2 linked regions of the Homo sapiens genome follow. The protein of the gene in region 1 purifies or fractionates together with the protein of each later gene. This does not show direct contact. Each region holds a gene or a part of one and is shown on either strand. Other genes may lie near its edges.

What was found.
Region 2: the proteins of SLC17A3 (region 1) and ADCY3 purify together in Homo sapiens (affinity purification with mass spectrometry; one large-scale study listed by BioGRID and IntAct). This does not show direct contact.

What each region holds. Positions count from the first base shown.
Region 1 is NC_000006.12:25,864,098-25,867,748, reverse strand, and holds part of SLC17A3 (sodium-dependent phosphate transport protein 4), read left to right. Parts: intron 1-3,651.
Region 2 is NC_000002.12:24,819,126-24,822,776, reverse strand, and holds the end of ADCY3 (adenylate cyclase type 3), read left to right. Parts: intron 1-146; coding exon 147-266; intron 267-400; exon of another isoform or gene 401-1,136; coding exon 1,137-1,260; exon of another isoform or gene 1,261-1,928; coding exon 1,929-2,053; coding exon of another isoform or gene 2,054-2,212; exon of another isoform or gene 2,213-2,325; coding exon of another isoform or gene 2,326-2,397; exon of another isoform or gene 2,398-2,662; coding exon 2,663-2,845; 3' UTR 2,846-3,608; downstream 3,609-3,651.

The sequences.
Region 1 (3,651 bases):
TAAAGCAATATGGATTCTTAAAGGATACACATTATATTCCAACATATCCAATAGATGAAGTATTTCTTAGCTGAAAAATCTTCTTGTGACTGGATATTTAATTTGTAGGGTTTTCTTTTGTTACTCGGCTATTATATCTATATATGAACTATATATGTTACTTAGGTTATTAGATGTTTATGAACTATGTATGTAAGTTATGATATATGATGATAAATGAATATTATTTAACATGACACTAGTCCACATTGGAATTATTTCTTCAGGGTTTATTCCTAAGAAATGAAAATTGTGAGGCAAAGAGTTTACGTATTTCATTTCCTTTGTTCACTACAGAGACGTTAGTTTTTAATCCAAACAAAAATAAAAACACAGGGAGGATTTTGAGCAGAAGAGGAGGTGATTTTATTCATGGTATGGTGAGAATACTCCAACTGCTGTATTGAGAATAGATTAGAAGCAAGGAACCAAGCTGAAGGTTACTGCAGAAATTCAGGCAGGAGATATTGGTAACTAGAACCACATGGAATTAGCTCTTAGCCAAAAAATAACAGTGGCCCTTGTGAGAAGTTGTTGGATTCTATACACATTTTGAATATGAAGACCATAGTACATTCCAGATCAAGGATTGCAAAGTGTTTGGAAGAATGAGATTTCTATCAACTGAGCTGGGGAAGACTCTGGGTAGAAGTTTTGAGGTGGTAGGGCTCAAGAGTTTGGTTTTGGACCTATTCAGTTTGATCTGTTAATCAGTTGATCAATTGAGTTTTAGTGGAACAAAAATTACGATGTATCAATGGTGTCTTCAGTTTGACAAAATGCAGTATTATTGTATTATATCTATGCTTTATTTTAATTTAAAACATGCTATTGCACCAATAGTATTTTCCACTTATGTAACCAATTATCTTAGCAGTACTAATTACATGATCTAGTTTTCTTCCATTAATTGCCACAACACCATTTACACACTGCATGATTCTTTTGGATGTTTTTCTATTGTTCCTTAGATTTTTCTGAGTATTCTTATTCTTCAATACAATAATGTCTTAACATTTTAGTCTCATGATAAATTTTGTAATGCAAATATTTTTCAATACCTCCCAAAATTCTTGTATAGTCATTCAACTAGGCTTTATTATTTTTTGCCAACTGTACTCATTTTCTATTTCTGCATGCATATTACCATAAACATAGTAGTCTGAAACAACATACATTTATTATCTTACAGTTTCTGTGGCTCAGAGCTCCAGGCACAGTTTGGCTTAACTGGTTCTTCTTCTCTGGGTCTCACAAGGCTACAATTGATTGGTTGATTAAGTTGCATTCTCATCTGCAGTATAGACTAGGGAAGAGCCCACTTCCAGGCTTATTCAGGTTGTTGGAAAAATTCATTTTCTTATACCTGTATGACTGAGGGCTCTGGCTGTTTGCTAGATTTTGGCTGAAGGCCATTCTCAGGTCTTAGAGGATGTTTGTGGTTCCTTATCGTGTTAGGTTCTCCAACTTCCTGCTTACTTCATCAAGCCCACATGAAGAGTGTTTATCTTTAGTCTGCTAAGATGGAGTCTTATATAACATAATGTAATCATGGGGGTGACGTCCCATCACCTTTGCCGTATTCTGTTGGATACAAGCAAGTGAAAGGTCCTGGCCCCATACAAGGGAAGGGAATTAGATAAAAGTGAGGATACCATGAGGTGGTAATCACTGGGGCCACCTTAAGGTCTGTCTGTCACATCAAATTAAGAAATAAGCTTTCTGGATTCTGAGTACAGTAGTACTGAATTCATTAATATAACCTCTCACATTCAAAAACCTATGATTTCATGGTGTCAGTGCCCTCTTCCAGTAGTTAAATAGAATACCCTCAGGTGCTTCTTAATTTACAATTTCTCACATGCATACAGACCCACACATTCTTGTATAGCTAGGGGTGATCACAAAAAAATTTAACAGACAGCACATCACTGGCACCAATCTATTAGAGTAGGCACAACTGGTATAGTTCATTCAGAATGGACACAGGACACAAATAACTTTTAAGGACACAAATAGTGGGCTGTAGGAAACACTTAACATCTGGCAAGCACCAGACTAAGCCTTTTAAATACACTCTCTAGTTAATCTTTCAACATTCTCATGAGGCAAATGTTCAACCTCCTCATTTGTAAGCCATTAGTCTCTTGGTTTGCTGATACCCTTTTTGGTAGCTTTTGACACCTGGGATCCCAAGGGAACTTGGGAAAATCAGAGGCCACAAGAACTCACAAATTATTAGTTGACTTGATTGATAGAGGAAGTCACCACCAGTGCTGAATCAGATTGAAAAAAACCCTTACAAAGATACTATGTTTCAGTTAATTCACTACAAAGACTTGTACTTCATCAATAGAAGATAGCATAGCCATAAGGGGAATCCTCCTTTATTAATCTCAAGGCACCTCTTTATCCCACATCACAGAGCCACATAAACCCTACAGCTGGGTGCACGTGGATTGTATTAATCACAGAAGTATTCTCATGGAATCATCTTGGACAAAACAGAAGCCACCATATATATGTGCTACAGTAGTTAAGAGCATAGACACATGAGCTACATTGTGAGCTGGTCTCTCTGTGCCTGTGTTTCTTCATCTGTAAAATAGTAGTAATAGCTGCTTCATAGCGTTATTGTGAGGATTTGACATCATGTTACATGACCTATCACAGACATTTGAAGTACCTACTGACTTCCTCTTCCCTGAAACTCTTGTCCCCTTGGCTTCCAGGACACCGCACTCTCCTGGTTTTCTTCTTATCCCACCACCCATTCCTTTTCACTTTCCTTTGTTTGTTCCTCCCCCATCTATTCAACCTCCAAACACTGAAGAGCCCCAGAGTTAGTCTTTGGTTCTCTTCTCTATTTATTTCAATTTCCCAAGTTTTATGGCTTTAAGTATCTTCTGTAGGTTATTAACTCCCAATGTTATGCCTCAACTCCTACTTCTCTTCTAAACTTAAGAACTGTATATCCAACATGCTCAACATCTTCTCTTTGGTGCCTAAGAGGCATCTCTGTTTTAACAAGTCCAGTAGGAAGCTCTTGACCACCCTACCTTACAAACCTGCTCCTTCCAAGAACTTTCTTCCTAGGAAAGCAGAACTTCATTCTTCTTGTTGTTTAGAACAAGAACCTCTCAAACTCCCCTTCTCCTTGCCTTCCACCCACCTGTAAAACTGAAACTCTTATTTGGTGTTTTTTCCACGCTGGGATTTATCTGGGGTCTGACCACATCTTAGCTACTGCCATGACCCTAATCCAAGATAGCTTCACTTCTCTTCTGAATTATTGCAATAGCTTCCTAACTGTACTTCCTCCCTATCGTTTTGTTCTCATTTCTGCAGCCAAAGAGATCCTTTCAAAATGTAAGTCATATCATGTCCCCCTTCTGCTGAAAACCCTCCAGTGGCCCCCATCCCACTCAAAGTAAAAGCCAAAGTACCTGCAATGGCCCACATGTCTTGAACAATTCAGGCCTCATGATCTAGCTTTCCTGACATCTCTTCTTGTACCCCTGGCTCACTCCATTCTGTCATAATCCCCTCTTTTTGATTCTTTGAACATACCAGGCGCTCTCCAACCAGCTCCAGGGGTGTTCCCTCTACTTG
Region 2 (3,651 bases), on another chromosome or scaffold:
AGATAAGCGGTAGACTAAGTAACAACTTTGATAGGAAAGTGTCTCTTGGGTTTAGTGGGGTCCTTGTAAACAGGTACATCTGTCACTGGGTTGGGTCATTCCTCTCCCTTGACTGCTGACAATTCTTTCCTGAATCCTGGCCTCAGCTCCTGGACAATCCCAAGTTCCGGGTGATCACCAAGATCAAAACCATTGGCAGCACGTATATGGCGGCTTCAGGAGTCACCCCCGATGTCAACACCAATGGCTTTGCCAGCTCCAACAAGGTAGCTAACCCCAGTAGCCAGAGAGATGAGGCTCTGCCCCCAAGGCAAGAGATTGGCAGCCCAGACCTAGCATGGGGGAAATAAGAACTGCTGTGCAAAGTGGTCCCAGACACACACCACCAGCACCACGTAAATATAAATAAGAAATAGGGTTTATTGAGAAAGTTCGGCAAGCAGAGAAACAGAACAGACACACAACCCCCTGCTGTTCACAGCTCAGGCCTAAGATGGTTGTGTTCTGTGGCCAGGCCCCCTAAGGCTCTGTGCTTTCATAGGAACTGGAGAGCAATTGTCAACAAGGGAAACTGAAAGCATGGCCTTCAGAACTCTGGCTGACGGCAGCCTGTTCTTTTGTTAAGCTAATTTAGACCTTTGTTCAGCTACCAGGAGAGAAAATTAGGTGTAGGAGCCCTGGTCCCAAGCTCTGGTCTTAAAACACCATCATCCTGCTTTACCTCTACAACCATCCCACGGCCCTATTATATGGATGAGGTTAAAGAAACACGTCCAAGGCGGGTCATCCCCCTCCAGTGCTTATCACCTAGTTGAGGGATCCAAACAAGGACAACCTGACAAAACCTAAGGACCAGGACCAGGCCCAGCCAAGGTGAAGGGGTCCGCCTCGTGGTCAGACTCACAGGTCCGTCTCCTCTGCTCAATTGCCCAGTCTTTGCCTAGACCTGCTACGTGAACTTTGTCACAGTGGCAAGTCAGAGCTAGCGTGGCTGCGACTCCTTTGTGGGAGGAAAAGTAAGGCCTTGAACATCTAGGTGTAGGGAATCCACCCCCAGAACACTGCCAGGGAAGGCAGCAGAGCAGGCTGCTGCAGTGAGCGGCCCCTGACACTTTCTCCACGGTCCCCTGGCACAGGAAGACAAGTCCGAGAGAGAGCGCTGGCAGCACCTGGCTGACCTGGCCGACTTCGCGCTGGCCATGAAGGATACGCTCACCAACATCAACAACCAGTCCTTCAATAACTTCATGCTGCGCATAGGTGAGCACCCCCAGCTGGCCTGCCCCGCAGCAGGCTCCCTTCCCATGCAGGGGCCTGGCCCACCACCAGGAGAGACATGAGGCTCAGGACAACTGAGGCAATTCGGGTGGGGAGGTTCACGCACTCACAGGGCAAGGAGACCTGAAAGACCTTTAGTCCAGACGACTCTAGATGACTAAACCAAAAACCCAGCTGATGTGATGATCCGACTATACTGTGCCTACTGTTACAATAGAAGCTTGGCCTGCCTGGCTGAGAAGTGAGTTTGTGATCCATTTCCAGAGGGGTTGCTGTGCCTGCTGAGGACATGGCTTCCCAGACAGGCCTGCTCTTTGAAAGGAGTTAAGATCACCTGCTGCTTCTACTGAGGGGGTATCATTCCTGAGTGAGGTCCCAGGAGACTTGAAATACCAGCTGTGTTAGAAGCTGGCCACTACCATGCCGAGTAAATCTGCATATGGGGGGGGGGTGGCGGCTGACACCTAACAAGCACACGGATAAACAGGAGATGTGATTTCCACCCTCCAATAGCATACAGCCAAGTTGAATGAGGACAATGATGTGTTACATTAGGAGCTTTGTGGTACAGGTCTGGAGAGGAGATGGCTTCTGAGGCCCATAACAAGGTGTGGCCTGTGGCTGTGCTGAACTTTATGCCTCTACCCTAGGCATGAACAAAGGCGGGGTTCTGGCTGGGGTCATCGGAGCCCGGAAACCACACTACGACATCTGGGGCAATACAGTCAATGTAGCCAGCAGGATGGAGTCCACGGGGGTCATGGGCAACATTCAGGTATGTCCAGTGGCACAGCTGGCACGTGCTCAGACTCGGCATGAGAACAAAACCGGAACAGTGCTTTCCCACGTGCCCCTGCCTCCCACCCTGGCCCTGAACAGTAAGTCCAGAGGCAGAGACGTGGGGCAAGTGGAAAAGAATCTCTGCAATAGCTAGCCTCAGCACAGGAAGAAACACTTCCACCCATCCACAAAATCTGGGCTGAAGTTCTAGATGCATATGGCCTACCTTTGGGTATGAACCTTCTAATACCTTGTGATCTGTCTCAGTGGCGTCTGGCAGAAAAGCTCCACGAAAGGGGCAAAGGGACAGAAGAGCAGGCAGTGGCAGTTTCCAGGTAACAGTGCTGCCACCCAGGTGACCATGGCCATCCTAGGAGAGAAGTCTCTGGATGAGAGGAGGCCCCCAGCCAGTCACTCCAGGGTTCTCCTTCCCACCCGCTGCTCGCCACGGGTGGAAGGGCTTGGCCCTGGGAGGTTTGGGGAGTGTCCCGTACTGCTTGGGACCCATGGATCAGTGCTCGGCTCCAACCACCCAAAGCCCCCACCCGCCCTCAGTCTAGGCTCCCCCCGTAACGCCACGTTCTTGCTCCCCCTCCCTCTCCAGGTGGTAGAAGAAACCCAAGTCATCCTCCGAGAGTACGGCTTCCGCTTTGTGAGGCGAGGCCCCATCTTTGTGAAGGGGAAGGGGGAGCTGCTGACCTTCTTCTTGAAGGGGCGGGATAAGCTAGCCACCTTCCCCAATGGCCCCTCTGTCACACTGCCCCACCAGGTGGTGGACAACTCCTGAATGGCCTCGAGCCTGCAACAGTCCAAACCGGAAGGGAGAATTTATTTTTTGAAACTGAAGGAAGTCCCGACCTTCCTGGATTGAAGTGCACACTCATGGACTTTAGGTTTAGAAACCTCCTCAGCCTTCATTTGTTCGTGGATGTGTGAGCTCTGAGGGTGGCCCTGCTATTCCTGTGTGTGCCTGTAGTGTCCCCAGCATAGGGGTCTTAGGCATAGGGCTGAACAGTCCTTCCAGAGCCCTCGTTCCAATCCCTGCCGTCCTTGCCCCTGAGGGGCCCTGACCACTGTGAGCAGGAGGGTGGCAGAGCTGGGACAAAGCTGCCTTTGCCGCTGGGCTTTCCGGGACTGTGGAGGGAGCACAGGCGGGGAAGCTCCACTTCAGACAGGGCTTGGTGGGGCAGGACATGGCTCCCATTTTGAAGGGAGGTCTCCATGTGGTCCGAGTGAGGTGAGACGGCCCTCGTCCTGGTGTTCCTGATCATCTTGAAAGGTTCTTCTGGAACTCCTGTCCCCTTAGTCATGAGAACAGAAAGTGCAATATTTCCTTTCACCTGGCAGGGGAGGGGGGATTTATTTCTGAAAGAAAAATATATAAACAGATCTTCTACATTTATATTTTTAATCTTCTGTTAAATACACTTTCCGATATTGCCTTGCCTTTTGAGCTCTTGCTACAGTCGCCTTTGCTACTGCTTTAAGAGAATTTACAGGTATTGATAAAGAACAAGACTGTTTTATTAAAAGCTTTATTCAACTTGAAAGTGATTGTGGAAATTCTGTTAATATCACTTATCTGAGGAGTGC